Regions from separate parts of the Homo sapiens genome. Here region 1 is linked to region 2. The links come from fine-mapping of genetic effects on gene expression. A gene starts in region 2. The other region holds a variant in brackets. All regions are shown on one strand. Distances are between the middles of the regions.

Region 1 (5,390 bases), 35 kb before region 2:
CCATATGTTCTCTGTCATAATAACTCAATCCTATTATTGCAGTATGAAAATAGTCATAAACAATAGCTTGTATTCCAGTAAAATTTATTTACAAAGACAGGTGGTATGCTGAATTTGGCCAATGAGACATACCTTGCTGACACCTGAAACAGAGGATAGGCAAAAGAGATTTAATATCTTTTAAAATTGGAGTCTTAGAAGAAGAAATGGAGGTATACAGATATTCTACAATATGATTCAAGGTAATATTCCAAAATATAGAAGGTAACTTGAATCTATGCTTGATAAGGCATATAATGATCTAGGAAAAATAGAGATGTGTCAAAATGGAGAATGATTTCAGTAGACCTATTAGGTTTCCAAGGAAAAAAATCTTTAGGTGAGCCAGACTAAAAGGATCTACTAACTTATAATTAAACAAACAAACAAGCAAGTCGGGTTGTCTCAGATACAACACAACCTTCTAAATCGGTCAAAATATCCTCAGGGAAAAAGTCCTTATGGAAAGAAAGTGAGAAAATATTTTTTTAAAGCCAAGTCAAACTGCCATGCCAATGTGAAGTGGAGAAAGATGTGGTTAAAAACATGCAAATGTCCAGGGAATGTTGTTCCTATAAATATTATCCCTGTGTCTTCTTGAAGACACTACTTGAGATTGTCAACGAATTAAGAGATAAATGGAAACAGTATGGTTAAAGACATGTAAATGTTATAAACTCTGACAATATTAATATGATGTTACTAATAAGAATTAGCAGGTGTTCTAGGCCGGGTGTGGTGGCTCACGCCTGTAATCCCAGCACTTTGGGAGGCCGAGGCAGGCGGATCACGAGGTCAGGAGATCGAGACCATCCTGGCTAACACGGTGAAACCCCGTCTTTACTAAAAATACAAAAAATTAGCCAGGCGTCGTGGCGGGCGCCTGTAGTCCCAGCTACTTGGGAGGCTGAGGCAGGAAAACGGCGTGAACCCAGGAGGCGGAGCTTGCAGTGAGCCGAGATCGCACCACTGCACTCCAGCCTGGGCGAAAGAGCGAGACTCCATCTCAAAAAAAAAAAAAAAAAAAAAAAAAAAAAAGCATTGGTAGGTGCTCAAAATTTCTTGATGGTCTTATCTATCTTTTCATTCCCAGGAACCAAAAGACATCATTTTAAATAAATAAACCAAGTAGTAGAGGAATATGTATATTTAACAACACAAAACACATAATGAGAAGGCAAAAACCAAACTGTTGTGACAGAGGAGATAGGTAAGGAGAAAGGGGGTACTTTCTCAATTAGTCATTGCTCAGAGTGGGGAATTATCAAAATCAGACCAACAAAAGTTTCCTGATATTATATTATTATGAAATAGAAGATTCAGACTATTACTGATATTATAAAAAGCCACAAAGTAACCATTAGAAGAAAAATACAGGCTTTCCAATTATCAGAAGAAGCACATACTCTCAAACAAAACAAAGAGCCCAATAGTCTCAGATTTAAAAACAGAATTATAAAAGCAGAAAGTATGTCACAAAGGAGAGCTAAATCCTAACATAACTATCATACTGATAAATGCAAATTATATTTACATATACATGCTTTAAAAGAAAGAAATTGTTGTATAGGATCACCAAGCAAAAATCAACTCTGTATGGTATATTTCAGACATTTTAACACAAAGTGATTTATAAAGTTGAAAATAAAATATGAAAAATGATAGTAAATGCAAACTAAGTATAAAATCAGAAATTCCTTACTGCTTGGAAATAAAAAAATTTTCTTAACTAACTCATGGTATAGAAGAAATTAAAATGAGATGGCAGAACAATCTAGACATGAAGGCAGCACACAGAGAAACATGCATAGCATTAGGCATTCTTTTTTTTTTTTTTTTTTTTTTTTTTTGGAGAGGGAGTCTCGCTCTGTCACCCAGGCTGGAGTGCAGTGGCACGATCTCGGCTCACTGCAAGCTCCGCCTCCCAGGTTCACGCCATTCTCCTGCCTCAGCCTCCCGAGTAACTGGGACTACAGGCGCCCGCCACCACGCCCGGCTGATTTTATTTTTGTATTTTTAATAGAGACGGAGTTTCACCGTGTTAGCCAGGATGGTCTCGATTTCCTGACCTCGTGATCTGCCCGCCTCGGCCTCCCAAAGTGCTGGGATTACAGGCGTGAGCCACTGTGCCCGGCCAGCATTAGGCATTCTACTAGTAAATAATGAAAGTCAATAAATTAGTCATATAATTCAAGAAGTTAGATTGGGAATAATAGAGATAAAAATTTAAAATAAATTATAAAAGAGAAAAGTGACAGAATTAATTAAAAGTTCTCAGTACTGCTTGTTGAAAAGAAAATGAATCATTAGCTACCCTAATTAAGAAGACAAAAGGCACAAATAGGCAAAAATAAGCAAGGATGAGAAAATAACTATAGAATCAGAGAAAATTAAAAGGATCATGAAGAGCTAATTTACTCTAGCCTATGTTAATAAGTTTGGAAAAGCTAGATGAAATGAATAATTTTCCAGGAAAATATAATTTATCAAAAGTAACTCTAAACAGATATAAAGAAATCTAAATAGCTCAGTTATCTTAGAAGAAATAGAGAAATTTATCTAAAAGCTACCGACTCCCCACAAAAACAAACAAGCAACGATAAAAGCAAACAAAGCAAGTTGAGACACTTCTACCAAACCTTGAAAAATTAAGTAATTTCAGTGCTTCAAACATAGAAAAGGAAGATAAGTCTATAAATTCTTTTGAAGATGAGAGCATAATTGATATCTACACCTAATAATTGCTTAAAAAAGATGAATCTTACTTGAGAATATTGATGCCAAAGTACTACACAAAATATTTAGCAAGTAGGATCCAGTGGCATATTA[C/T]AAAGAAAAGTAGACGATGACCAAGTAGACTTTTTTCCAAGAATGCAGGAAATAGTTCAACATTTGGAAATCTATCACGGAAATTTATTAGATCAATAATACTAACTGGTAAAAATGATATAACCCTCTGTACTATTTGTATAAGTTTCTGAGGATCTACAATTACTTCAAAGCAAAAAAAAATTATTTCTTAATTTAATTTAATATTTTTAGACAGGGTCTCACTCTGTCACCCAGGGTGGAGTGCAGTGGTGCAATCACGGCTCACTGCAGCCTTGACCTCCTGGGCTCAGGGGATCCTTCCACCTCACCTCAGCCTCTGTAGTAGCTGGGATTACACGTGTGCATCACCATGCTGTGCTAATTTTTTTTGTTTGTTTGTGTAGAGATAGAGTTTATCCATGTTACCTAGGCTCCTCTTGAACTCCTGGACTCAGGGGCTCTGCCCACCTTGGCCTCTCAAAATTCTAGGATTACAGGTGTGAGCCATCACACCCAGCTCAAAGGAAAAAATTTTAAAAAGTGACCACTTGTATCAGTGATATTAAAATAACTGATACAATTTTTACATCGCTTTCTGAAAAATAACCTTTAATAAACAAGGAAGAGTAGAATACGCCCTTCCTTCCGTCCTTCCTTCGTTCCTTATTTCCTTCCTTCCTTCCTTTCCTTTTCTTTTGTCATCAGCAGTGTTTTTATTTGTTTGTGTTTTGACTTACAAAAAGCTATACATACTTAATGTAGACAACTTGACAAGTTTGGAGGTAAGCATACACCTATGAAAGAATCAATACAATCTATGCCATGAATATATCCATTACCTCCAAATGTTTCCTCCTCCCCCTCTCTGTTATTATTATTATTGTATGTGTATAATAAGAACACAACAAAATACCCTCTTAGCAATTTTGAATATATAATAAAATATTATTAATATTATTAACTATATGGGCACTATGTTGTACTGTAGATCTCTAGGATTTATTTATCTTGCCTAACTGAAACTTTGTACCCTTTGACTAATACCTCCTTGTTTCCCCCTTTCCCCAGCGCCTGACAACCACCCTTCTTTTTTTTTTTTTTTTTGACATACAGAACGGTACATTGTTTATTGAACTCAAATTTCTAAACAGTACAAAAAAGCCCACCAAGTATATGTTACCATGCAACCCATTTAAAGTCATATTACCTTAGATTTCACTTTAAAGCCATAGCACATTTTATAATTAAAATTTTATGTATGTATCTGGAGTGAAGAAAAGGGGTTCCTAATCCAACATTTTCTAGAGCAGAATTAACAAAAAGCCTCAAGTCTAGACACAAGTAAAAATTAAAAGCGATTTTTAAAAGTATTTGTGAAATTAGGACTTTCTTATGTCAAATTTGAAATGCATCCTATTGTTGTAAAGAATTATTCCACGATTTAAACTGCATTAATGTCTAAAAAGTAAGCTTAGTAAACTCTACAAACTAAAACTATAAAAATATTTTATAATGCTGTAAATATTCTGTTCATACACTGTAAGTGATTACACAACTATTTTTTAAATTTTATTATTCTTTTATTATACTTTAAGTTCTATGGTACATGTGCGTAATGTGCCGGTTTGTTACATATGTGTACATGTGCCATGTTGGTGTGCTGCACCCATTAACTCGTCATTTACATTAGGTATATCTCCTAATGCTATCCCTCCCCGCTCCAACCCCACAGCAGGCCCCGGTGTGTGATGTTCCCCTTCCTGTGTCCAAGTGTTCTCATTGTTCAATTCCCACCTATGAGTGAGAACATGTGGTGTTCGGTTTTTTGTCCTTGTGATAGTTTGCTGAGAATGATGGTTTCCAGCTTCATCCATGTCCCTACGAAGGACATGAACTCATCCTTTTTTATGGCTGCACAGTATTCCATGGTGTATATATGCTACATTTTTGTTAATCCAGTCTATGATTGATGGACATTTGGGTTGGTTCCAAGTCTTGGCTATTGTGAATAGTGCTGCCATAAATATATGTGTGCATGTGTCTTTACAGTAGCATGATTTATAATCCTTTGGGTATATACCCAGTAATGGGATGGCTGGGTCAAATGGTATTTCTAGTTCTAGATACTTGAGGAATCGCCACACTGTCTTCCACAATGGTTGAACTAGTTTATGGTCCCACCAACAGTGTAAAAATGTACCTATTTCTCTGCATCCTGTCCAGCACTTGTTGTTTCCTGACTTTTTAATGACCGCCATTCTAACTGGTATGAGATGGTATCTCATTGTGGTTTTGATTTGCATTTCTCTGATGGCCAGTGATGATGAACATTTTTTCATGTGTCTCTTGGCTGCATAAATGTCTTCTTTTGAGAAGTGTCTGTTCATATCCTTTGCCCACTTTTTGATGGGGTTGTTTTTTTCTTGTAAATTTGTTTGAGTTCCTTGTATATTCTGGATATTAGCCCTTTGTCAGATGGTCAGATGAGTAGATTGCAAAGATTTTCTCCCATTCTGTAGGTTGCCTGTTTAGTCTGATGG
Region 2 (5,390 bases):
ACAGCTATTTTAAAACCAATCAATTCTGAATGCCCTTGTGCATTTGTTTCTATTTTCTGTTTATTTTCATGGTCTGTTTTTCTAGACTTATCTTCAGACATGGCTTTTAATAGTTATTGAAATTTGGACATTGTGTTTAAAAAGTTTGAGAGTCAATTCATTGATCTGGTTAGTGTTATCGTCCTCCAGAGAGTATTTACTTTTGCTTGATGTGTGTGAGGAGGTCGTTATGACGATGGCAAATCTCCTATCTATTCAGTGATTGTCTACCTAATTCAGCAATTTAGGTGATTTGAAATTGGGCTCCCACTTTGTGATGGTACAATATTTTTAGCACATGCTGTCTCCTAGGGTGTAGCCCTTCAGGGGTCCTAACTGAAAATTTGAGGTAATTATAAGGGCACCACCTCCTTGGTGGTCTCTGTTTGCTTCTTAAACTAGATTTCCTTAACTTCTGAGCATCTTAGCCACTGTATTTCACCTGTTTCTTCACCTCTCAGTGTCCAGTTTCAAATCAGCAGTGCCTTGAGTAAAAAGTACTCAGGAGTTGAAAATCAGATTCACTGATTTGTACTTCCTGTCTTCTGGGGATTTTATTTCTTCAAGGTGTCATTGCCTGGGCAGCTTTCTGAAGCCTTCAAACTTATAGGTTTTGCATTCTGTTCATTTTTGTAAGCTGCTCTCAGCAGGAGGGTTTGTCAGCAACAATCTTCTCTACAACTAATAAAGCTTGAAATATCTCTAGCATGAGTTATTTTGAAGCAGATAGCATTTTAACTCATATGGCAGAAAGAACGCACATCTGCTGAAATTGAAGAGTTTCCTGATGCAGAGGCCTTCTCTTCAAACTAAGAAACAAAGTTGGAAGCACTTAGAACATTATGTTTGGAGTAAGAAATGTGAATACTGATGAAAACAGAACTGCAAAAATTTCGCCTAAAATAATGAGTGTTTTAGCACTGTAAAGAATACCAGGAATCACCCCAAATTACCAAAGTTATCATTCTACTTAGGGACCTTAAAATAGAAAGAACCCAGGGCCAGTATCATTTTGATGCCTTTTAAAATTTCTTTTTGAAATAGTGAAATGTCACAATGGATTTTAAAAATAGGGGAATGTTGAAAATGTTGATATTTAATAAATTAGTACTTTTTAATTGACCAATTTCTATATAATATTAACATGCTGTCTACATCAGGAGTTCTCAACCCCTGGGCCACAGACCAGCAGTGGTTCGTGGCCTGTTAGGAACTGGGCTGTACAGAAGGAGCGGAGCAGTGCACGAGTGGGCCAGCAAAGTTTCGTCTATATTTACAGCTGCTCCCCATCACTTGCATTACTGCCTGAGCTCCACCTCCTGTTAGATCAGCAGCGGCATTAGATTCTCATGGGAGCATGAACCTTATTGTTGAATTGTCCATGCTAGGGATCTAGGTTGCAGTGTTCCTTATGAGAATCTAATGTCTGATGATCTATCATTGTCTTCCATCACCCCCAAATGGGACCATCTAGTTGCAGAAAAACAACCTCAGGGCTTCCACTGATTCTACATTATGATGAGTTGTATAATTATTTCATTATATATTATCATGTAATAACAATTGAAATAAAGTGCGCAATAAATGTAATGTGCTTGAATCATCCAGAAAACATCCCCACCCCTGTCTGTGGAAAAATTGTCTTCCATGAAACCTTTCCCTGGTGCCAAAAAAGGTTGGGGACCACCGATTTACATAATTAGAAAGTTTATAAAATCCTAATTTATAGAGTGGTCATCAAATGGTAGGAAAGTTCAAGCAGTTTGAGGAACTGATGTTTTTTTTTCTCAATACTTGCAGTGCATCTCTATGACTGTATGGGCAGCTTCTTCTGGAGATAATGTTGACAGTCTAAAAAGTTAAGCTGTGACGATTTACTCCCCTCCCCTGCCCCTATAGCACACTCTGATTTTAAATATTTTCTCTCTTAATTCTAATTAAATGACATAATTATAGTGCCATATCCCAGTCAATGCCATTTATCAGTGACAGCTAATTAACACAATTATAAAAGTGGGAGCCCTAAGTTACCAGTGAGGTATAGAGCAACTCTGGAAATTTTCTCCTTACTGAAAGGAAATATTACACATATTCCTTCACCAGAAGAACAATACACAGTTTACCTTCCCTTTTTGTTTTTGATAATACCACTTTGTTCCCCATTCTCTACAAAATTTAGTTTGAAGAACATTTTAAAAACTTGATTCATCGTAGTCATCAATCCTTCATAAATATTTCTTGACAATTGGCCTCTCTGTAGTTTGCAACCTGGACTACTCATGTTTAAGAGCTTGGTTTTTCAAGACTATTGTGTTTCAAATGGTTTTGAGGTTTTATGGTCTGTTGACATTCTGAGGAACTTAGAACACATTCACTTCCTTTTGCTTGGTGAGCTGTCCAGAGCCTTTGCAAATGCATGCAGAGCATGGAAATGACCCAGCTGCCCTGCTGTTGAAACAGAATCCTATTTGGAAGGCAGACATGTGGCCCATCTCTGTAGCCATCACTGAGAAATCTGGATTTTCAAGGTAAGTGCAGATGACTTAGGTTTGGGGAGACATGAATGAAAGTGCTATAGAAATAAAGCACACTTAATTTGTTGGCATAGTCCTAATTCAGAATCTTCAAATGGTTCTGCTCTAAAAAGCAAGCTTATTCTCTGACCACAACTCCTCCTTTATAGAAAGAATTGTTCTATTCTTACTGCTTAGGATATGCTGCTCTGAAAGTAAAACCTAATATTTATGGGTAAATGTGAACAAAAATGATTTCAGAATCTCTCTGTCAAAAAACCAGCTAAACATATCATAGAATTTTTTAGAGCAGTTGGCACTATTGAATTTGTGTATAATTATTCAAATGCTTATCTTTTAAGTGATGTCTTAATTTCCTTTTGTTATGAAAATCCTTTAACTCTATTACTGCATTATTTTCAGATAGAGTTTGAAACTATTCAGGCAGCCCTAGTCAATAGAAGGAAACAATCTGTAAGCAATCAAGTACTTAGAAATTTCTAAAAGAAGTATATTCAAAATAACATGTGAAATAATGGTAATTATAATTCTTTCCATCCCACTTTTAAAGTACTACTTAACAGGAAGGATCTGAAAATAACTTCTTAAATAAGATAAATAAAAAGAACAACATCTGTTCAAATAATTTTACTTTAAGTAAAATACTTTCTATACCAGTATTTTCTACTTCCAAGAAGTAATATTTTTCAAATATGTGGAATGAAATATAATGCAAAGTTTTTAAACAATAAGTCAGTAATGCCTAACCTGAATATAGGCATTTAATTTTGTTTCTTTTACAAATTTGTTATATGACTTTTGATAGGTCACTTAATTCTCTGGACTTCAGCGTTCTACATAACTGCACAATTACTTATCTGAGAAATTACTTATTAAGTACTCCAGAATTACATGTCTTTGTTTTCTGTTTTATTGGGTTTAAATCAGTTAATTAGGATTTTAATCAGTCAATAGAAGTAATGGGAAGACCAATGGATGAGGAATCAGGTGGTGTGAATTCTAGTCCTCTGTTTTCTAGTAATTGGCTGCATAATTTGGGGGAATATTGTCTAAGGATTCCAGACCAGGGGTTGGCAAACTTTTTCTACAAAAGCCTTGATAGTAAATATTTTAGGCTTTGCAAGCCAAGAGGTAGAACTGAGGCTAATATATTGGTACTTACATAACCATTTAAAACTATAAAAACCATTCGTAGCTCACAGGCTGTATAAAAACAAGAAGTGAGCCAGCTTTGGCTTAGGTGACACAATTTTCCAACTATTCTTCTAGCAATGATTTTCAACAATTATAAAATGGAAGTTGTAGACTGGATAAGAGATGCTCAGCTAAGGGAGTTCCTGGATGGTCTTTAGATTGATACACCAATCCTCTGAAATTGCATGCAAAAATGTAAGTGTGTGTTTTTCTTTTCTTCCTTTTGTGCGTGTGTGTGTTTCTCTCCCTCCCTCCTTCCTTCCTGCCTGCCTGCCTGCCTGCCTGCCTGCCTTCCTGCCTTCTTCCCTCCCTCCCTCCCTCCATCTCTCTCTCTCTTTCTCTCTTTCTTTCTTCAGGGCCTTTCTCTCTGTTGCCCAGGCTGGAGTTTAGCGACTCAATCATGGCTCACTGACTGCAGCATCGACCTCCGGGGCTCAAGTGATCCTTTCATCTCAGCCTCCTCAGTAGCTGAGACTACAGGTACTTGCCACCACACCTGGCTAATTAATTAATTTTTTTTTTTAAATAGAGACAGGGTCTTGCTCATGTTGCCCAGGTTAGTCTCAAACTCCTGGGCACAAGTGATCCTCCTGCCTTGGCTTTTCAGAGTACTGGGATAACAAACATGAGCCACTGTGCCTGGCAGCACTTTTTTTTTTTTTTTTTTTTTTTTAAATAAGAAAAACACGGATTGATTTTCAAAGTGGTCCAAAATCCAATTGTAGTTAAGGACCACAGGTCTAGCTAATTTCTAAAAGTGCTTTCCAAATTTAAAATCAATGAGCCTGTGAAATGTTTACTGGTGTCTACTATGGGTAAGCCATTGTGCTAGCACTATAAGAGACGTAGCATGTTGTGACTAAAATAATGTGTTAAATATATTGTTAAATAATATGTTAAAAAATATATTTTTGGGACAGGGCCTCGCTCTGTCTCCAAGGCAGGAGTGCAGTGGCACAATCACAGCTCACTGAAGCCTTCACCTCCTGGAATCAAGTGGTCCTCTCACTTCAGCCTTCCGAATAGCTGGGAGTGCAGGTGTGAGCCACCCTGCCTGCCTTTTTTTTTTTTTTTTTTCTTTAGAGAGGGGGTCTCACTATGTTGCCAAGGCTGGTCTCAAATCCCTGGGCTCAAGCAGTCTTCCTGACTCAGACTCAGACTAAAAATATTTTAAAGAAGTTAGAATATGTGCAAGTCTGTGCTGTCTTTCAAAGTAATAACATTGAAAACAATTTTCAATTGATCAAAGATTTCTGAGACATTGCTTTGCAAAGTGTTTTCAAAGCTAGTTCATACGTTATACCAAAGTATTTTCCAAATTATGTTATTGTCCCATCTTATTTTGAATGACAATGTTATTATTCGTGACAGTCATAATCAAACTTAATCTAAGCATAGTCTGTTTCCTAAAAACATAATTTCCTTAAGGGCAGGAACTATGCCTTTGCTACCTTTATATTTTAGAACAGGGTTTGACCCATAATAAGTACCCAGCATCTTTGGAATGGTTATATGAGTGAATAAGTGAATGAAATGATGAAGGTATTATCATGGAGATTACGTACCATAGATAGTGAAGGCTTGGAACTCCAGATGGTCTAAAAGCAGTAGTTGCTAAGTCCA

Evidence for each region.
Region 1: its variant is fine-mapped to the expression of GPR141 in whole blood (INTERVAL, PIP above 0.99).

What each region holds. Positions count from the first base shown.
Region 1 is chr7:37,646,699-37,652,088 of GRCh38, forward strand. No RefSeq gene overlaps it. Among named protein-coding and RNA genes, the nearest start is that of GPR141, 34 kb to the right of the region's middle. The variant C/T (reference allele first, on the strand shown) is at 2,869.
Region 2 is chr7:37,681,337-37,686,726 of GRCh38, forward strand. GPR141 (G protein-coupled receptor 141) reads left to right here and starts at 2,430. Exons shown (of 3, transcript NM_001381946.1): 1 at 2,430-2,567; 2 at 4,124-4,247. RefSeq lists an enhancer at 433-492.